3 linked regions of the Homo sapiens genome follow. The protein of the gene in region 2 interacts with the protein of the main gene of each other region in a biochemical or structural test. Each region holds a gene or a part of one and is shown on either strand. Other genes may lie near its edges.

Region 1 (7,023 bases), on a different chromosome or scaffold from region 2:
AGCTAAGGTGGGAGAATCACTTGAGCCTAGGAGCTATTTGAGGCCGCAGTGGGCTATGATCACACCACTGCATACTAGCCTGGGTGACAGGGTGAGACCCTGTCTCTTAAAAACACCAACAAGGTCAGGCGCGGTGGCTCACGCCTGCAATCTCAGCACTTTGGGAAGCCGAGGCGGGCGGATCACGAGGTCAGGAGATCGAGACCATCCTGGCCAACATGGTGAAATCCCATCTCTACTAAAAATACAAAAATTAGCCAGGTGTTACAGCCGGGCACGGTGGCTCACGCCTGTAATCCCAGCACTTTGGGAGGCCGAGGTGGGTGGATCATGAGGTCAGGAGATTGAGACCATCCTGGCTAACATGGTGAAACCTCATCTCTACTTTAAAAAAAAAAAAAGTACAAAAAATTAGCTGGGCATGGTGGTGGGCGCCTGAAGTCCCAGCTACTCGGGAGGCTGAGGCAGGAGAATGGTGTGAACCCGGGAGGCAGAGCTTGCAGTGAGCTGAGATCGCGCCACTGCACTCCAGCCTGGGCGACAGAGCGAGACCCTGTCTCAAAAAAAAAAAAAAAAAAATTAGCCGGGTGTGCTGGCACATGCCTGTAGTACCAGCTACTTGGGAGGCTAAGGCAGAATTGCTTGAACCTGGGAAGCGGAGGTTGCAGTGAGCTGAGATTGTGCCACTGTACTCCAGCCTGGGCAACAGAGCAAGACTCCGTCTCAAAAAAACAAAAAGACACAACAAAAAGAAGGTGGAGAAAAAAGGCAGCCGCACATGGGATATCAGAAACCAAAGCAAAACTCATACTGAAATGGTAATCAGAAGCAATGAGTAGCTCACTGTAGTATCAACAGGGGCAACCAGCCCCCAAGGACAAGGTCTAGGCTGGAGCTCTGTCAGCAGGTAGTTACACTCACTAATTACTAAACGTTCATATTTTGGCATTTCCTGCTTAGCTGGGAGACTGGGAAATAATCCTACCTGGCTGGCCTTGCTCCCTGAGAAAGACTTCCTAGTGCTATTGCAGGAAGTGTCAGCACACATGGTGACCGGAAGCTCCCACCTTTCCTACAGGTTGTTTCCTATGGCTGAAGTCCCTGTAAGCTGCCAAAGAGCAAAAACTATTTTTTCTCTCTTTTCTTTCCCAGCAGGCCTGGACAGACAGTCCCATTGCGTGGACGAAAAAAGGCCTGGGATGTCACTGAATTTAGCAGCCAGATCATAGCAGTAAGGAGTCCTGATCCCCTCCCAGACCCATAAATGAGGAGCCAAAGGCAGACCCAGTCCCTTCCTCCTGGCTAGGCTGAGGGTCTTTCACCAAGTTGTGAATTGGGAAGGGAGTCCAAAAAAGGAGTTAATGTCTTAGAGCTTTCAGTGAAAGGTGTATAAAGCAAAGCTGCCTTCAGGTTCAGCATAGGGTGGAGAGAAAGCCTCCTCCCTGGAGTGAAGGACCAGCTCAGAGACCCATTCAGTGTTTGGGGAGAAGGGGGTTGTTGACAGATAGTTGTCTTCCAAACTTTCGCCTCAACGAACACAGCCCCAAAGGAGGCAGACCTTTGTATTGCCAACTTCCCAAAGAGCACACAAGAAAATAGGCCAAGGCTGCCCAAAACCAGCTTGACTGGTTCTACAGAGAAGCCCCTGGTCTGCTCCGCCTTCCTCATGTTAAAAAGAAAAAGGCCAAAAAGGTGGCTGGGAGCCAGTCACTGAACACAGCCCTCCTCTCTTTCTGCCAGGCACCAGTTGTCCCTCAGGATCACCTAGCCACCAGTATCAGTGTCCATCTCCCCTCCTCTCCTACCAAATCTTCTGTTCATTTAGTTTTATAAGCCTAAAATTAATGATTTGGTGTAAAAAGGAAATGAATTTACTTTTGCCCTTTTTGCCATTTTCTAATGAGAAATGTAAGGAATAACTGCAAGTAGGGGGAAATAAGTGCCAACCCAAAGACAGACATCTGCGGAAAGAACCACCACAGGGACTGACAAACCTTATTTATCTTGAGATGGGGTCTCACTCTGTTGCCCAGGCTGGAATGCAGTGGCATGATCACAGCTCACTGCAGCCTCAACTTCCCAGGCTCAAGTGATCCTCACATCTCAGCCTTCTGAGTAGGTGGGATACACGCATGTGCTACCACACCCAGGTAACTTTTTAAAAATTTTTTTGGGCTGGGCGCGGTGGCTCCCGCCTGTAATCCCAGCACTTTGGGAGGCCGAGGTGGGTGGATCACGAGGTCAGAAGATCGAGACCATCCTGGCTAACAAGGTGAAACCCCGTCTCTACTGAAAATACAAAAAAATTAGCCGGGTGTGGTGGCGGGCACCTGTAGTCCCAGCTACTCGGGAGGCTGAGGCAGGAGAATGGCGTGAATCCGGGAGGCGGACCTTGCAGTGAGCCGAGATCGTGCCACTGCACTCCAGCCTGGGCGACAGGGCAAGACAACGTCTCAAAAAAAAAAAAAAAATTTTTTTTGGCCAGGCGGGGTGACTCATGCCTATAATCCTAGCACTTTGGGAGGCTGAGGCAGATCACGAGGTCATGAGTTCAAGGCCAGCCTGACCAACATGGTGAAACCCCATCTCTACTAAAAATACAAAAATTAGCGGGGTACAGTGGCGTACACCTGTAATCTCAGCTATTCAAGAGGCTGAGACAGGAGAATCACTTGAATCCGGGAGGCGGAGGTTGCAGTGAGCTGAGATCGCACCACTGCACTCCAGCCTGGGCAACAGAGCAAGACTCCGTCTCAAAAAAAAAATTTTTTTTTTGTAGAAATGAGGTCTCACTATGTTGCTCAGGCTGGTCTTGAACTCCTGGGCTCAAGTGATCCTCCTGCCGTGGCCTCCCGAAGTGCTGGGATTACAGATATGAGCCACCACACCTAGCTTGAGAAACTTGAAACATTCCAGACAAAAACAGATATGAAGATAAAGGGATCTAGCCTATTTATACTTATCAGAGGAGGAGATGTCTAGAGGGCAAGAGGAGGAACTGGGATGCCTCCTCCTCTGAGACACAACTGGAAATCAAGAGGCCAGATTCTCTCTGGGTGCTGTTTAGAATCAGCTGTACTATCTCAGTCTAAAAGATAAGCAATGATGCCGGGCGCGGTGGCTCACTCCTGTAATCCCAGTACTTTGAGAGGCCACGGCAGGCGGATCACTTGAGTCCAGGAGTTCAAGACCAGCCTGGCCAACATGGTGAAACCCTATCTCTACTAAAAATACAAAAAGTGGCCAGGCATGGAGGTGCGCACCTGTAATCCTGGTTATTTGGAAGACTGAGGCATGAGAATCGCTTGAACCCAGTAGGTGGAGGTTGCAGTGAGCTGAGATCCTGCCACTGCACTCCAGCCTGGGTGACCAGAGCAAGACTGTCTCAAAAAAAAAGACGAGCAATGACCTTCAATGGCCTATAACAAAAAGGAAGGGGGCGGGTGGCAGTAACATTCTGCTCAGGAGTTAGCACTTTCAGGGTTAACCTGGGGATAGCCTGGCTCTCCAGCAGTGGGAAGAGGGTGACTTCCTCCCCCACAGGTTTGTAAAGGCTTACTCTTCCCTTTGCAGAGACAGAAGGGAGAAAATGCATAGACAACACTTCAGTGACTCACTCATGTTTGATGAAAGCTGGGAGGAGGCCTGGAGAATCCAAGCTACAAGCACAAAACGTACAAATACTGGAATCTCCCATCAAGAGAAGGAAATTTAGCCACCTATCTGGTTTGTCATTTTGCTGAACTTCCACTGAAGGAGGAAGGGCCAGCTTTAAACTCCACCCACCCTTTCCACATCCTTCTCAATTTTTGCTTTGATGGGAAAGTGGGGAAACTGGCGGCCCCACCATGGCTAAAAGAGAATCAAATCCTTTCTATACTTCCTCTCAAAGCAGAGGCCTAGTAGCTCCAGTCCACAGCTTAACCAAGCAGAGGGAATAGGGGCTTGTCCTGGTTACTGTAGGAAAGCCTCATCAGGCAGTCTCAGGGAAGGAAGATGACCACCCTCCTCACCCTTTCCATCTGCTGAGGTTACTTCATTCCAATCCATTAATGGGCTTCAAAGTGCTGCTGGGGGGAGTCCATTTAGCAGAGAAGCTATCACGGGGCCAAAGGTGGCGCCCACCCCCTACCCCATTTGTCGATAATGGGCCACAAAGTCTGAGGCTTGGCTGCACTCTAGACATAAAATATTCATTCAAGTCGACATAATACATAAGTAGGAACCTCATGGAAGCTCCTGGGAGAAGAGAAATGCCAGCCAGGTGGCTAAGTGCTCAATGGGAAAGAGTTCATGAAGGCCTGGGTTAGTCCTGATCAAATGCCCACTGAGAATTGGGTTGTTCTGTCCAAAGGGGAAACAATCTAGTCTGAGAAGTTCTGACTCCCAAAAGCTCGAACCCTGCAAACCTCTTAGGCAAGCAAAGTCTCAATCTTTTCCTACCTCATAGGCACCAACTCTGCTTAGGACATTTATGCTGAGAAAAATCTCCAGCCCAAACTTTGGTTGGTCTGAAAGATTAAGTTATCCTTGTGCAAACTTTATTTTAATCTGCAGCAGGCCGAGTTTCAACAACTGTCTTATATCCATCTGTTTAGCTACTTTCCGAAGTCCATAAATTGGAGAAAAGTAATTTTTTTTTTCTGAGATAGTGTCTTGCTCTGTCACCCAGGCTGAAGTGCAGTGGCACAAACACAGCTCAATGCAGTCTCGACCTCCCCAGCTCAAGCCATCCTCCTGCCTCAGCCTTCTGTGTAGCTGCAACCACAGGCATGTGCCACCATGCCCAGCTAAATTTAAAAAAATTTTTTTGTAGAGATGGAGTCTCACTTTATTGATCAGGCTGGTCTTGAACTCCTGGCCTCAAGCAATCCTCCTGCCTTGGCTTCCCAAAGTGCTAGGACTACAGGCATGAGCCATGGTGCCTGACCAGAGAGAAATTATTCTAATTTACTAGGTACAGTTACTTTTCAGATTCAAAGGTTACGAACTCCAAGGACTCCCAAAGCCCTTGCTCTAACAACACTTCCTTCCTGATCTCTAGGGCCAAGCCGAAAGTGACACTATTTGGTCTGACATTCACCCACATTCCTGACCAGAAGGCAGCACCACCAAGGACCCCCTGGCCAGAATCAAAGGACAGAGTGAGAATTAGCACCAGGGCACACTGCTGCACAGCTCAGAGTGTGGACTGAGATGCTAGCTAGCCGATCCAATCTACCTAAGTTACACCAAAAGCAAAAAAAAAATATTTATCCAGCAGATCACCTGAGGTCAGGAGATCGAGACCAGCTTGGCCAATATGGCAAAACCCCGTCTCTACTAAAAATACAAAAATTAGCCAGCATGGTGGTGGGCGCCTGTAGTCCCAGCTACTCCCAGGAGGCTGAGGCAGGAGAATCGCTTGACCCGGGAGGCGGAGGTTGCAGTGAGCCGAGATCGCATCGCTACACTCCAGCCTGGGCGACAGAGCAAGACTCTGTGTCAAAAAAAAAAAGAGTTTTATATATATATATATTTTTATCCAGAATCAACAATGGGGGTCCAGTGAGAGTGTTTGGAGTAGTTCAGCTGTTCCTTATAGGATCTTGTAACTTTGTTTTCTTCACCAGTACTTCTAAACTCCCCTTCCTAGAACTGAGAGAATAAACAATGCCGCTCACTGCCTAGAAGCCTGACAGCAGCCCCCTCCCTTCCCACTGCAGCAGAAGTGGGGCAAGTTTTCTCTCAATCCCTCTCTCATAGTTTCTGAGGCCCAGAGGTGGGGCAGGTCCCAGATGGAGTAGCCTCTCCCCCAGGTGTTATGGAAAACTCTAGCAGGTGAACTCTGGAAGCTGGACCTTTCTCCAGGCTTGCCTGTGACTGCTGCTGCTGGCTGGAAGACAAACAGTCATCTTGCTGATTGCTTTCACAACTGCCAAGCTTCAGGCCAGCAGAGTCATTTGGAAAAGAAGTGAACAAAAAGCTCAGCTCACAAACTAAGAATCCCCCAAGCTACGAGCCCCAGATTAGAACCCTCCTTCTGCAAAAGCAGGAAGTCTATGGCTGTGAAAAAGCACATCTGGAATCAGGTGTCACAAAAACCATCTTAAAGACAGGGCTTAACTTTTTTTTTTTTTTAATCTCCTACTTTCACTGTTATAAGCGAAGTGGACAGCACACAGGCAATCTCCCTGTAACGCAAGGTTTATTTTTATGCTTCAACATTTTCAGTGTCTGTGTGTTTCAGAGTGATTAAAGGGCTCCTGGAAACAGGTTCTCATCAGCCACATTTTTAAAGAAGAGGGAGAGGAAGAGCAAGAAAAGAGACTGGAGACAACCAGTGGTGTTTGTTTACCTATTTTCTGGTAAAACCAGTTTTAAATTTAAATAAGGTGACAGAGGACCTTTAGGGGAGGAAATCAGCCCAACTAAATCCCCTTTTTAAAAAAAATAACATTAAGACTATAGTAATGACCAAGCTTCCATGACTACTTTATCTAAAATCACAACAGGACCAAGAAGAGGTTTCTTTCACTTGGTGGCATGATCTATTCTCGGAGGCCAGTGTTTGATATACCTGGCCTTGTGACCTGAGGAGCTGCTGCTTGTCTTTTTTCCCGTTTTAAAGAATACAGGAATCAGGCCCGGCGCAGTGGCTCACACCTGTAATCCCAGCACTTTGGGAGGCCGGATCACGAGGACAGGAGACTGAGACCATCCTGGACAACATGGTGAAACGCTGTCTCTACTAAAATCCAAAAAATTAGCCGGGCGTGGCGGTGTGTGCCTGTAGTCCCAGCTACTCAGGAGGCTGAGGCAGGGGAATCGCTTGAACCCAGGAGGCGGAGATTGCAGTGAGCCAAGATTGTGCCACTGCACTCCAGCCTGGCGACAGAACGAGACTCTATCTCAAAAAAAAAAAAAAAAAAGAATACAGGAATCTGTCTGGAATAGGTGCATCCAAGGTTTTCCAAAGTCCCTGCTTTTACTGGAATGAGACTTAATATTAAATCGATACAGTGACTGGCTACCCTGAGAACA
Region 2 (7,023 bases):
TAAGAAGAAAGTCAAACATCCAAACAGAAAAATGGGCAAAGGAAAAGAAAAATCAATTCACTAAAGAAATACAACCAACTATCAAACGTGGAAAAGTACATAACCCATCTCTGATAAAAATACATGTATATAACAGTAACAAACAATCATTTCCTCTTTATCAAAGTGGCGAACATTTCAAAGCCTTATCACTTCTGATATTGCCAACAGTGTGGAAAACTTTAAATGGTGCAAGTATAAAGCTTGAGATAGGGCAATTTGGCAGTATCCATGAAAACTAAGCAGGGTGCTTAGTGTTACTAAATGATACATTACTTGAGGATACAGGAGTAGTATATATCATAGTGACCTAAAGCATAGGCTCTGGGATTAGATGGCCATTTCCTAGCTTTGAGACACTGACAAATTTCTTAAATTTATGGCCTTAGTTTTTTCATTTATAAAATAGAGATTAAAAGAATTACTTCATAGAGTCTTGTGAGAATTAAGTAGTTTTACACATCTTATAAATTAATAAAGGATATCTGAACTAAGGAACTTATAATAAAAACAGTGATTAAATTTAAAATGTCTTTGTTCATTTACATGGTATATATCACCCTCTACAAAAAAAAATGACACTTGTCTTTCAATCTGTCAAGCTTAGCTAAAAAATTCACGTATCTCTTTTCTATATCACATATTGACATGATATAGGATGCAAGATATAAATATCAATTTAATAGACATTATTAAATAATTTTACACTTAGTAGAATCTTGGATAAATGGTTAAAATTATAGATTGACATTAAGTGTGGGCACAGGAATATTCTGTGTATACCAATGGGTTTAACAGAAGATGTGTTTGCACTGATTTCTGGTCATCAACTTGCTTTCCGTGAATCTTTAAATACCCAATTCCAAATCTTCCAGCTCCTGGAGAAGGGCTGTTTCTTTCTGAATTTTCTCCAACTAGAAAAGTTTGAAACAATGAAGTTATTATGAAATAATTACTGGATATGTAACCAAAATAATACAGAAAAAATGGTATTTCTGACAATTTATTATGTTCACTAGTAAACACAGATTTTAAAATACAGGTTAGAAACAAATTCTAATTTGTTATCTGGTATGAATCGAGGGTGAAAAGAACAGACACTGTCTTACTGCATCCCTTTGGGCCCCAAAAATTTTCAATTCTATATTCGGGCTTAAACATGTTGACAGGAGGAGGGAAAAGGCAAACAGGGCAGTACAACTTGAGAGAATCTTATATTTGTCTAATATAACAAATTGCTATTATTTTCAGCAGTAATAACATAGTATGCCTCTTAGGAATATTGACTTTTTCATTCACATGATCAATACCATATCTCTTCTATTTAAGAGTAAAGCTATTTAAAAGTAAAAACATTAAAAAGAATATGGCATATGGTTTTCAAAATAAGTTTTTAAACTCCATGTGCTCTTTTACCTGACTAAATACTTGTTTATAATAAAAGGGGGAAGGCTGGTGGTCACCACAAGCCTAAATGAAAAATGCAGAAAGTACCTGATTTTTTTCTAGCTGTTTTCCAGTTGCTGCTTGTTCTTTCAGTTGTTCGATTGCTTTCAGTTTCTGCAAACATCAAATATGAGTCAAGAGCATGGAAGAAAAGTCACTTCAAATGCAAATTTCCTTATTAAGAATGTGAAACTCAAGTAAGGAGATTAATTATCTTAGATTTGTATCAACAATGGTCTGTTAAAATGCTAGGATAAATTGTTTTTTAAAGTTAAATGCAAAATTGTAAATGTTAAAAACATGAGATTTGGCAAAATATTATTCTCAGGCTTTTAATTAATGTTATCGTGTATGCATGTGTATATATAAATGTATCAGTAATGGCACATTTCAATGCCCCATTGGACCTGGGTGATGTTTCTGGCTTTGAGAGAAATCTCAATGAGAGCATTCTGAAAGATTGTTGGTCCAAAGTCCTGCCCGATAAAAAGTGAATGAAAGAGAAACCTCATAATGCAGCTGTGAAGGGCTCTAGAGACCTTTTTTTATCCCCAGGGCCACCCCAGCACACTGGCTGCAATATCACAAATCAATACACTTCTTTTTTGTCTCTGTCTCTTCATCTTCAAAACTAGGATAAATATCTGCCCCTAATTATCACAAGGTATCTAATGAAATACTGAGTATAAAAGTATTGAGTGACCAGGTGCAGTGGCTCACACCTGTAATCCCAGCACTTTGGGAGGCTGAGACAGGCAGATCATGAGGTCAGGAGATTGAAACCATCCTGGCTAACACGGTGAAACCCCGTCTCTACTAAAAATACAAAAAATTAGCCAGGTGTGGTGGCAGGCGCCTGTAGTCCCAGCTACTCGGGAGGCTGAGGCAGGAGAATGGCCTGAACCCGGGAGGCGGAGCTTGCAGTGAGCCGAGATCGCGCCACTGCATTCCAACCTGGTCGACAGAGCAAGACTCTGTCTCAAAAAAAAAAATTAAATTAAATTAAAAAGTGTTCAGTGGCCAGGCGAGGAGGCTCACAAATCCCAGCATTTTGGGAGGTCGAGGCGGGTGGATTACCTGAGGGCAGGAGTTTGAGACCAGCCTGGCCAACATGGTGAAACCCTGTCTCTACTAAAAATATAAAAATTAGCCAGGCGTGGTGGCGCACACCTGTAGTCCCAGCTACTCGGGAGGCTGAGGCAGGAGAATCGCTTGAACCTGGGAGGCGGAGGTTGCAGTGAGCCAAGGTTGTGGCACTGTACTCCGGCCTGGGCAACAGGGCAAGACTCCGTCTCAAAAAAAAAAAGTGTTCAGTATATTTCTATGCTGATGCACACTGAATTTTATTACTCCAAAAATCAAAGTACTAAGAGTCTTCAGACATTTATGAATAGAACTAAAATCAATACCATTCCTAAGTGAACAGTGCTTCATAGTGAGAAAACAACAATGAGAACTGCTGATACCAACTTCTTAGATACCTGTCTTTAGGCATCTAAGTACTCTCTTACTTATATAATTTTCATGTATACCTTTCAATATGCACATCTGTTTTTAAGTCTCTCACCTTCTTTAGGTTCTTGATTTTTTTGTCTATCTCAGGGTCCCCAGAAATTGACTGAGAGACAGTGTTTCGTGGTGTGCTCTGTGGGGCAGGAGTAGGTGCCAAATCTGGACTCTTGTCACTTCTTGCTTCCTGCAGGAAATATTTTTTTAAATTCAATTTTAAAAGCCAAAAACATTACAGTATTTAAATCAACATAGCTTTGGCATATGAAATACAGAAACTAAATATGTGATTTTATCTACATTTTATATAAAGAATCTGAATTAAAGGTCTCATGAAGTATGCTACATACTCCCATGTTAGAAATAAAATGACCTTATCAGAGTAAACCAGGAAGTTTCTGTACCAGCCAACAAGCATTCCAAACTTTTGCATATTCTGAGATGTGCCAGTAGATAGATGGTTTGAACATATGAGAGGGCTTTTCTATTTAAGGTGTTTAAAGTTTCACTCTTACAAGGCTCTCTCCAAAACTATAAAGAATATGTATGATCAAGTACCTGTAATGGATTATGCTACAAGAATAAGAATCCTACAGATATTAATTTATAATCAGATCAATTCAGCTCTGCAACAAAGTACCACAAAACTTTTTTCCCCTTAAAGGGATGCCATAATGCTTCCAATATGATCAGACCTCTGATAACTTTTCTTGTCCCTCCTCACTGATTCTGAATCACTTTTATTTCCGCTAAGGTGCTGTATACTCTTGCCCCTGGCCTTTGTGTACAGCAGTCTCCCTTAACCATGGTTTCAGTAACCAAGCGTCAACTGCAGCCCAAAAATATTACATGGAAAATCCCAGAAATAAACAATTCATAAGTTTTAAGCTGTGTGATGAAATCTCTCAGCATCCTGCCTAGAACGAGAATCATTCTTTTATCCAGTGTATCCACAGTGTATTCGCTCCCCACCTATTTTTCACTAGTAGCTGTGTTGGTTATCAGATCGACTGTCACAGTATCAACAGTAGTTGTGTTTAAGTAACCCTTATTTTACTTAATAATGGTCCCAAAGTGCAGAGTAGTGATGCTGGCAATTCGGATATGCCAAAGAGAAGCCGTAAAGTGCTCCCTTTAAGTGAAAAGGTGAAAGTTCTTAATAAGGAATAAAAAATATTGTATGCTGATTTGCTATGATTTACAGTAAGATTAAACCTATCCATGAACTTGGGAAGAAGAAAAAAGAGATTAGTGCTAGTTTTGCAGTTGCGCCTTGAACTGCAAGTTATAGCCGTGGTCATTCAACTTACCACACAAGCATTGTACCATCTCACATTGTCGCAAAAAGGGTGAATACAACACCATTAGATATTTTGAGAGACCATATTCACATATCTTTTATTACAGTATATTATTATAATTGCTCTATTTTCTTATGAGTTACTGTTAATCTCTTACTGTGTATCACAGTCTCTATAGGGTTCGGTACTATCTGTGGTTTCAGGCATAGCTCTGCCCCTCCAGGATAAAGGGAGACTACTATATATTGTTCCTTGTGCCTAGAACACCTTCCCCCACAAGTCACCTGGCTGAACCCTACTTATCCTTTAAGTCTTCTGGAAAATCTCCCCACCTTAAGACTGGATAGTCGCACCTTTCCCAGGCTCTCATAATGCCCAGTATTTTTCCCTACGGTAACACCATATTCTACCATTCCCCATTAGAACTGAGCCTCTAGCATAATACTTGCTTCGTTGCACAGGCTAAATAAATAAAAAATAAAGGAATGACTCTTCCTTTATAATTATGACAAGATATATATTTTGGTAAGAGGGGAAAAAATTATGTAAGTATTTATTGGCTCCAACGTAGGGTTTCTACTTCTTATAGAATTTCCAGTGGAATATATATATAATGCTCCAGGTCTCCATAACCTTTTACTCAGAGTTCTGGGTAGGATACTCTGAACTTTTAAAGCATCCTCAGATCCTCAGGGAACATAGAATAGGGTATCACTTCTAGATATTCAACTCTAAAAGTCTGCCTAAGAGTTTTTAGAAAATACAGAATTGAAGTCAATTTTTCTCTTTTTTTTTTTTTTTGGAGACAGAGTCTAGGCTGGAGTGCAGTGGCACGATTCCAGCTCATTGCAACCTCCACCTCCCGGGTTCAAGCGATTTTCCTGCCTCAGCCTCCCAAGTAGATGGGATTACAGTTACAGGCACCTGCTACCACACCCAGCTAATTTTGTATTTTTAGTAGAGATGGGGTTTCACCATGTTAGACAGGCTGATCTCGAACTCCAGACCTCAGGTGATCCACCCACCTCGGCCTCCCAAAGTGCTGGGATTACAGGTGTGAGCCACTGCATCCAGCCAATTTTTCTTTTTAAAGTCATGTTGGTTTCACTTTTTGGTACTATTTAATAAACAATTATTTACCTTCTACATGAAAACAAATTACTGGGCACTTTGAGAATTCGAAAGAAAATATTAAGTTTCTCCTCTTAAGGAGCCTGTAAGTTCTGGTAATAGGCAGTTTTATATTTTTCACAATATAAAATTAAAGTAGAAGAGTAAATAAAAGAAGAGGGGATATTCTGCCTATCAAAATTCACTTTTGATATCAGATTTTAAAAATATAAAATTTTAGTTGTTTGTAATGAGCTAAGAATATAGCTCTCTAGGAAGAAAGGTTAATCTTATCATGTGAAAAACCATTAAAATTAAGTGATATATAAAATTTATTTTTCCCCACAAACTAACCAAGAACAAGTTGAAATGTCTGCATTATTATACTTAAATTCTAGCCATTCTCTAGAAAGGACGTATATATGGTAAGATTAAATTCTTATGTTTCAACTCTTTTTTGGTAAAGTCAACAAACTTATAAAATTATCACCAGTTTACAAAAATACTAGTTAGATTACATATATCTGACTGCTCTATCTTTGACTATTTACTTCAGAGTCAGGACTAAGAAGGTCTGGATAAGGTGAGATTCTGTCAAGGGCCATTTAGCTTTGTTCCATCACACAGCCACAACTTTTACTAACTTCAGCCAGTCGTCCCCAAAATACATACTGAATAGTTTATCTTGCAAGTTGAAAACCTTTGCTATTACTGGAAAAACAACTCAAAAAGCAATTCCACAATGAGGGATTACTGGTATCACCTTTGGTATCATCTTTAGTAAAAAACGTGTGTAGGTGCTTGATGACTGTATTGGCTCTTTTAAAAAAAACTGACAGGTATAAACATATAACTGAGAGTTGTAAATTTATAACTGATCAGCCCAGCTGATCACACTATTACCATGAGCTATAAAGAGTTACACATTTATAACAGAGTTACAAATAACTATTATTTATAATAATAATTTCATTATATTAATTAAATGTGAAATTATCACATAATTTATATTATAAAATGTATAAACTAATAGAATTTGTATATTATTTATATAATTAATACAATTATAATTTAGTATATTAATTAATGGTTATAATTATTAATAATTATAATCATATGTAATTATGTAAGTAATTATTTATATAATAAGTATAAAGGAATCTTAGTCCAGTATCACCAATGGTCATATTAAAAATATCTTTTGATAAAGTGGAAGAAACTTTGCTTATAAAAATAGAATTCTAAGTTGAGTGCGTTTCAGAGAGGCCCTAAAACTCAAAGGGCATCTTAGTTATCAAGTTGTTAAGGATACTACTAATGAGTTGTAATATCCAGGGCCAGTAGAGGTCCCTACTTGTACTGATGAAGGGACAAGACTTGCTTTTATACAAATCTAATATCAAATGCATGGAATAGATCATTTTTACTTGGAATAACCTAAAGCTGACCAATTAAGATACTTCTGGGGATGAAACATATTAACTACAAATGAACAGAATGGTTTTTCTAAAAGTCCAGATTTTAGCAGAATATGGTTGCATAATACAATTCTATACCTTAAAATAGTAACTGCCTCCCAAAACACATAACCAGCCTAGACCTGTCAAAATTCAAGAAT
Region 3 (8,012 bases), on a different chromosome or scaffold from region 2:
CCACATCCTCACCATCACTTGTTATTATCTGTTTTCTTTTTTAATACAGCCACATCATGATCTTTTTAAAACATCAATTCAGTGGCCAGGCGCGGTGGCTCACACCTGTAATCCCAGCACTTTGGGAGGCCAAGGCGGGCAGATCACCTGAGGTCGGGACTTCAAGACCAGCCTGACCAACATGGAGAAACCCCATCTCTACTAAAAATACAAAATTAGCCGGGGTGGTGGCACATGCCTGTAATCCCAGCTACTCGGGATGCTGAGGAAGGAGAATCGCTTGAACCCAGGAGGTGGAGGTTGCGGTGAGCTGAGATCGTGCCATTGCACTCCAGCCTGGGCAACAAGAGCGAAACTCCGTCTCAAAAAAAAAAACAAAAACAAAACAAACAAACAAAAAAACATCAATTCAATCATGCAGTCTCCACAAGCCACTGAAATTGTTTTTGTCGAGGTTACCAATGGCTTCCCTATCACTAAATCCAGTAGTCAGTTCTTAGTCCTTCTCTACTTGACTTACAACCAGCATTTGATGGGGTTGCGCATCCTCTTCGCCCTCCTCTCCCTGTCTTAGCTTGGACTTTTAAGACACCCACTCTCCTAGTTTTCTTCTTTTGAGACAGAGTTTCGCTCTTGTTGCCCAGGCTGGAGTGTGATGGTGGCATCTCGGCTCGCTGCAACCTCTGCCTCCCGGGTTCAAGCGATTCTCCTGCCTCAGCATTCCGAGTAGCTGGGATTACAGGCGCCCACCACCACGCCCGGCTAATTTTTTATATTTTTAGTAGAGACGGGGTTTCCCCATGTTGGCCAGGCTGGTCTCAAACTCCTGACCTCAGGTGATCCACCCACCTTGGCCTCCCAAAGTGCTGCGATTACAGGCATGAGCCATGGCACCTGGGCCTGGTTTTCTTCTGTTCTGACAAGCTACTCCTTTTCTGTCTCCTTTCCTGGTTCATCTTCAACTTCTTTTCTTCTATTTTTTTTTTTTTAACCTTTTCTATGGTTCTAACTTCCTCTTTTCTAGATATTCTAGCATCACTGGGCCCGGTCCTTAGACTTGCTCTTTTCTACTTGGACTCACTCCCCTGGTGATCACCTCCAGGTTTGTGGCTTTAAATTCCACGGACACAATGATGGTTCTCAAAAGCACGCTTCCACCATGGACTCTCTCCTGAACTCCCAACTGCCTCTGTCCAACCTGCTCCCTCCTAAAATGCCCTTGACTCTATTCCTTCTGCTGTCTTGGCCTGGTCAATTTCTACTTCCTACAGATTTCAGCTCAAAATCCCAGACACTCCTTCACAGGCTCTTCCACAGTGCTCATCCCCTTTATTAAAATTGCTTATTTAACTATTTTCCAAAATAGAGCATGAATTACTACAGGTAAGGGACCAGGCTCAATAATGAATGAGTGAGTACCAAAATATCTCCAGATACCCCATCCAGGACTTGTCACCTGCTTTTCTCTACATTTATAGTGCAATATCTGCATTCTCTCTGTACCCACCAATATCCACTCATCTATCAGGATCAACACAGCCTTCTTTGATGCTGGAGGGTCAGCTAGTATGGGCTTGCCACTCCACCTTGCCCAACCTTCAACACAGCCCTGACTGCTTTTTAAACTAATTAGTGAGCTCTTTGGGGAGCAGATTCTACATCTTATTCACTCATCTGGAAGAAACCTCCATCATAATCACTAAAAAATAATATTTGTCCATCTTACTAATGCCCAGAAATTATTTTGGCTATGCCTCCACTTCCTTTCCAGCAGACTACATACAGCCTGGCCAACACGGTGAAACCCTGTCTCTACTAAAAATAAAAAAATTAGTTGGCTGTGCTGGCGGGCACCTGTAGTCCCAGCTACCTGGGAGGCTGAGGAAGGAAAATCGCTTGAACCTGAGAGGCAGAGGTTGCAGTGAGCCCAGATCGTGCCACTGCATTCCAGCCTGGCGACAGAGTGAGAATCTGTCTCAAAAAAAAAAAAAAAGAAAAGAAAAGAAAGAAAATGTCACCAGGTGATAACTACTATGTTGACAACCGAAGTAGTGGAAGGGGGAACAGCAAGGGCAGAGCGGGGTTTCTTGTATAGGCAGGTTGTTTGAGGAAGGCTGCTCTGATAAGCTGGCATGGGAAGCAGTGCAGGATAAGGGAGGGATTTCCCCATGCAGTTATCTGGGGAAGAAGCTTTCCAGAAAGAAGAAACAAGCAGTGCAAAGGCCTAGAGGCTGGAGGATGCTTGGCTGTGCACCAGGAACAGCAAGGAAGCCAGCGTGGCCGGAGTAGGGGGTGCGAGGGGCCTTGCCTGTGAGCCTTAATAAATGTTTATAGGATTCTGATGAGACAGGAAAGCTACGGGGAAGGTCGGAGCAGGGGAGAGTCTGGTTCTTACTTAAAGGAACATTCCAGATGCTGAGGTGTGGAGAAGAGGTAGGGGGTGGAGGTTCAGGGGTGAGGATACGGAGTGGGAACAGGAACTGCGGCCAGGCAATTGGGAAACTACTGCAACTCTCCACGGAAGAGATTTTTAGCCAAAGATTGTTCAGCCAGTCTATGAGTATTTCAGGCCTCCGTATTTTCCATGTGTCAAGCCACTAGGCCTATTCGTCTTCCACTAGACCCCGCCCCACAACTGCTGCCTGGGAAATATTTGTTACTTGCACTGATAAAAATTCTTCACGGGAAGGAAATGGCTTTCAGTCCCCACCCCGCTCCACGATCCTTTCCCTGGATTTGGGGAGGGCCCCACACCCGGGCTGCGGACCTGGGCCTGCTCTCCCAGTGCTGACCCAGCCGGGGCCAGGGGCTTCGGATCAGCGTCCGCGTCCTGAGCTGGGGACGCAGGATTGGCGAGTCCCGCCCCGGCTGGGCCTGCAGCCCCTCGTACGTGGCCCCCCGGCCCCCGCTCCCCGCGCTCCCTCGGCTGCCCCCTGCCCTGCTCACCTGCGCCGCCGCCGCCGCCGCCGCCGCCGCCGGCCGGAGACCCGCGGCTTCGGGAGAGCTGGTTCTCAGTTTCGTTTTCCCCTTGGACTCCGCCTTCCCTGCAGCCGCCCGGCCCCCTCTCGCACAAGCCCTCGTCTGCTACGGGATTGGGGTAAATTGGCGCTGGATCCAGAGTGCGCGCGAGAGGCACTGGCGGGCGGGCTTGGCACCGGCGGGCGGGCTTGGCACCGGCAGGCGGGCTTGGCACCCACGTGCTGCCCCTGCACGGCCAGGACCCTGCACCCCCATCCCCCGCCCCCGGGGCTCCTAGGGTTCTCCGCTGGCCTAGTCCGCTGGCCGCACTAGGTTCTCGAATCAAGGGTTCCACTTACTCTCAACACAAATATTTGGGGTGGGGTTGGGAAGATGGATCTTACCAGCTCCATTCTACAATAGAGGAAACTGAGTAAATGAACTCACCCAGGGGTCCTGCCGCTCGTAAGTGGCAAAGCCAGGATTCAGTTCAAGTCGGGGCCTGTAAACACCAAAGCACTCTTTCCCTCTTGCCACACCGCGGCCCCCTCACCTTTACAAGCCTGGGGATCAGAGGCCTGGGGGCGTAATCTCCTTCACTCCGCTCCCACCCATCCATTCATTCATGAGCAGACACTTGCCAGCCGCTGTAAAAGCACCTGTGGGCCAGTCCTGCTGCTAAATAGAGACACCTGCTTCCTACAGTACCCCAGGGAGCTTCCTACCATAGTCCAACACCAGTAGTCCTCGATTTATAGAAATTCTACTCACCTGATGGACTGCGACACACTCCCAGAGTCACACAGAGTTCCAGAGTTCATTGGCACAGTGACTAATGAGTATTGAGGCACAGAGAATTTGGATTAACACAGGTAGTAAGCAGCGGAGTTAGAATTATAACCAGGAGTTTGTACTCTCAGTATCTTAGCTGGGATAAGAGAGGAAGGTGGTCCAAAGACAGACCTCAAATATACATTAAATATTATGCCTAGGCCGGCGCGGTGGCTCATGCCTGTAATCCCAGAAATTTGGGAGGCTGAGACGGGCGGATCACCTGAGGTCAGGAGTTCAGGACCAGCCTGGCCAACATGGCAAAACCCCGTCTCTACTAAAAAACACAAAAATTAGCTGGGCGTGGTGGCAGGCACCTGTAATCCCAGCTACTCCAGAGGCTGAGGCAGGGAGAATTGCTTGAACCTGGGAGGCAGAGATTGTAGTGAGCTGAGATCATGCCACTACACTCCAGCCTGGGTGACAGAGTGGGACTCCAATTCAAAAAAAAAAAAAAAAAATTACACCTAGGCAGGCATCCTCTCCAGCCTCCCTTCTCCATCCCCCAACAACCCCACATTGCAGGGTATCAACAACTAAAATCTACACTTTCCTTGTAGCTCTGGTCCTGGGCATAGCTTAAGTCCCCTATATGTAAAGCACTGGCGGGAGGTTTAGAAGGTAGACATGAGGCAGAGCCATCTTTTTGTGGCATTTCCAGGTGACAAGAAAACTCTGACAGTGCTGTGTGTCCATTTGTCAGCTTTGTGGGTGTGGGATGGCTGTGGCAGCAGCAATGGCAGTAGCAAGGACAAGTTTTTCTGACTTTTTGAGCCCCTGAACTGCCCAAGAGAGCTTAAAGAATGAAAAATGGCAAGCTTAAGCATGATCAGAGGACACACGCTTTTATGACTGTACCAGAAAACCCTCCTATTTCAGGGAGCCTCAGGGGTGATGTAAAAATCTGCCTTCTCTGCTGGGGAAAGATTTGGAAGGAATGATATCAGAGGGTTGGTGATGAGGTCCAGGGGAATGATATGATATGGGTGAACCTCTTGGAATGGGTAAAGTGTGAGCATATTGGACTCCCTGAGGAGCCCAATTCCCTACTGTCTGGGCTCTCAGCTGCAAAGCTTGGTGCTGCAGGCACCAGAATTACAATATAATTGTTTTGAGACAGAGTCTTGCTGTGTTGCCGAGGCTGGAGTGCAGTGGCACAATCTTGGCTCACTACAACCTCTGGCTCCCGGGCTCAAGCAATTTCCCTGCCTCAGCCTGCCAAGTAACTGGGATTACAGGCGTGTGCCACCGCACCTAGCTAATTTTTGTATTTTTAGTAGAGAAGGGGTTTCACCATATTGGCCAGCCTGGTTTGGAACTCCTAACCTCAAGTGATTCCCCCACCTCGGCCTTCCAAAGTACTGAGATTACAGGCGTGATCCACCGCGCCCAGCCTAGAATTACAACAAAAATTTTCATTTGCAGCCTCATCAGGTCTCTTCTGTGAACACTGAGGGCATTGATTGTGAAAGAAAGAAGCCCTGGGAATTTGGGTGGATTTGAATGAATCCAAGTGCCACTGCCCTCCTAAATTCTGCTGTGTCTCCACAGGCTTCCCACCATTGTCTGATAAGGCTGGTACAGCCTACATTAAAAAGCATGAAACAGTCACCCTGCAAGGAGGTGCTGATTCTCCAAATATCCTATCTCTACCTGTGCCTTCACTCCTAGAACTAGAATCAGATGCTAATGCGCCCCAAGAGGATATGGACAAGATCTGATGGAGGGGTGATGCTTTACACAACAAAAGAGCAACAGAAAGCAAGAAATAGACATGGCAATGAGTCTAAAGATGACGTGAAGAAAGCTGAAAGTTGAGGCTGAGCGCGGTGGCTCATGCTTGTAATCCCAGCACTTTGGGAGGCCGAGGTGGGCGGATCATGAGGTCAGGAGATTGAGACCATCCTGGCCAACATGGTGAAACCACGTCTCTACTAAAAATACAAAAATTAGCTGGGCGTGGTGGCATGTGCCTGTAATCCCAGCTACTTGGGAGGCTGAGGCAGGAGAATCGCTTGAACCAGGGAGTCGGGGTTGCAATGAGCCAAGATCGTGCCACTGCACTCCAGCCTGGCAACAGAGCAAGAAAAAAAAAAAAAAAAGAAAGAAAGTTGATGTACTGCCTCTAGCAGTGGGAGCGCTAAGCCAGTTTGCCCAGTTGGTTTACTATAATATCAGCTCAGTGGCAGCTCACACTAAATGTAAATGTAATGCCAAGTAATGCAGATGAAGAAATCAAAAATACTTAGGGAGTCAGGAATATTGGAGTAGATTCATCTTATGCAACCTAGTCACTTACTTCCTAACCATGGACCCCAAGAAGATCCAAAGTCCCCTCCTTCAGTGGCTTATACAGAGCCAGTGGCTGGCAATGCAGCTGATGTTCAGAGAGTTGGAAGGAATGATATCAGAGGGCTGATGATGAGGTCTAGGGAAATGATGTGCTTGAACCACTTCGAATGGGCAGAGTGTGCATATTGGGCTCCCTTTTGAATGTTCACCAAAGGCAACCACTTCTAAAGAGGCTTTTGAGAAGCAGTTGAGCAAGAAGACTTCTGTTAGCCTTTTCCCCAGCTATCCCTGTGCTTGTTTCAACAAATAAAGAGGCTGTGACAGCAGGAATGGAGGATATGTGTGAGTTTATCCACATGGGCTTCTCAGGCCTTACTACGTAACTCTTTGTGAATATCAGTATGGTTATTGACCTATAGTCAATCCCATAAGTCTATCTCTTTTAATACAGTGACTTTTAGATCAAAATGTGTAATGCTAAAGCAACGAATCAGACACAGATAGAAGAATCGTATGTATCAATTATTCTTAATTCTCTTTTTACTAGCAGAGGAAAAATAATAACTGTTATTCCTGCTTTTGGAAATTGTAGAGTGGTCCATATTTATGTTGTACCATATCTCTTGTGGCTCTTTTCCTCAGATGTTTCTGCTTTAGTAATTTGTCTTGCTTACTTATAAACTCTTCTTGTCAATAGTCCCCACATGCACATTATTATAAAATCATCGCTATGGTCTGAATGTTTGTGTCCTCCCTAAAACTCATAAGTTAAAAGCGAATCACCAATGTGATGGTATTAGGAGGTGTGGCCTTTGGGTGGTGGAACTGGTGCTCTTATAAAAGAGGCCCCAGAGATCTGCCTTGTCCCTTTCATCATGCAGAATACAGAAAGAAGGCCGGGCGTGGTGGCTCACGGCTGTAATTCCACCACTTTGGGAGGCCGAGGTGGGTGGATCACTGGACGCCAGGAGTTCGAGACCAGCCTAGCCAACATGGCAAAACCTTGTCTCTACTGAAAATACAAAAATTAGCTGGGCATGGTGGTGCATGCCTATAGTTCCAGCTACTCCAGAGGCTGAGGCAGGAGAATTGCTTGAACCTGGGAGGCATAGGTTGCAGTGAGCTGAGATCATGCCACTGCACTCCAGCCTGGGCGACAGAGAGAGACTGTCTCAAAAAAAAAAAAAAAAAAAAAGAAAGAAAGAGAAAGAAAAGAAAGAAAGAAAGAAAGAAAGAAAGAAAGAAAGAAAGAAAGAAAGAAAGAAAGAAAGAAAGAAAAAAGTCAAGCCCAGAATCATCAAGGGCTTACAAGACACTATATTTCCTGCACCCTGGTTGCCACTTTAACCTCGTCTCTTGTTTCTCTGCCCCTCTTTCATTCTCCTCTAGTTACATTGTCCTCCTTGTGGTTTTTCAAGAATGCCAGGTATACTACTGTCTCAGTGCCTCTGTACTTGCTCTTCCTTTTGCCTGGAACCTCATCCTTCAGATATCTGCAAAACTCACAGATCTTGTTGAAACGTCACTTGCTCACGAAGCCCCCTGACTACACTATTTAAGTTCCAATCACTACTGTCACCCTGTTGTCACTCCCTATCCCCCTCATTCTATTCTATTTCCCCTCCATGGCACTTACAGCCTTCTATTATACAATACAACTTATTGATTTATTGTCTTTGTTTTCTCCTTCCTCTGACATGTAAAGTCACATGGACAGGGATTTTTGACTGTTTTATTCGCTAATTATTTCATTGTCTAGAATAGATCTGGGCCAAAACTGGGCTGCTGCCTGTTTTTGTAAATAATGCTTTATTAGTGCACAACCACATTCATTCATCTATATATTGTCTATGGCTGCTTTGACACTAAGATGAGTTGTGTTGAGTCACTGTGACAGAAACTGCATGACCAGTAAAATTGAAAATATTTAC

What was found. Proteins that work in one complex are often made in the same cells at the same time.
Region 1: of the proteins of EIF2A (region 2) and MARK2, one has a biochemical effect on the other in vitro, tested with the Homo sapiens proteins (one study listed by BioGRID).
Region 3: of the proteins of EIF2A (region 2) and EIF2AK2, one has a biochemical effect on the other in vitro, tested with the Homo sapiens proteins (4 studies listed by BioGRID, with this or other methods).

Annotation. Positions count from the first base shown.
Region 1 is NC_000011.10:63,842,106-63,849,128, reverse strand, and holds part of MARK2 (serine/threonine-protein kinase MARK2), read right to left. Parts: intron 1-7,023. UniProt on the Homo sapiens protein: Serine/threonine-protein kinase. Involved in cell polarity and microtubule dynamics regulation. Phosphorylates CRTC2/TORC2, DCX, HDAC7, KIF13B, MAP2, MAP4 and RAB11FIP2. Phosphorylates the microtubule-associated protein MAPT/TAU.
Region 2 is NC_000003.12:150,577,776-150,584,798, reverse strand, and holds part of EIF2A (eukaryotic translation initiation factor 2A), read right to left. Parts: intron 3,182-7,023; coding exon 3,053-3,181; intron 1,600-3,052; coding exon 1,534-1,599; intron 954-1,533; coding exon 888-953; 3' UTR 1-887. UniProt on the Homo sapiens protein: Functions in the early steps of protein synthesis of a small number of specific mRNAs. Acts by directing the binding of methionyl-tRNAi to 40S ribosomal subunits.
Region 3 is NC_000002.12:37,153,962-37,161,973, forward strand, and holds the start of EIF2AK2 (interferon-induced, double-stranded RNA-activated protein kinase), read right to left. Parts: upstream 3,020-8,012; 5' UTR 2,947-3,019; intron 1-2,946.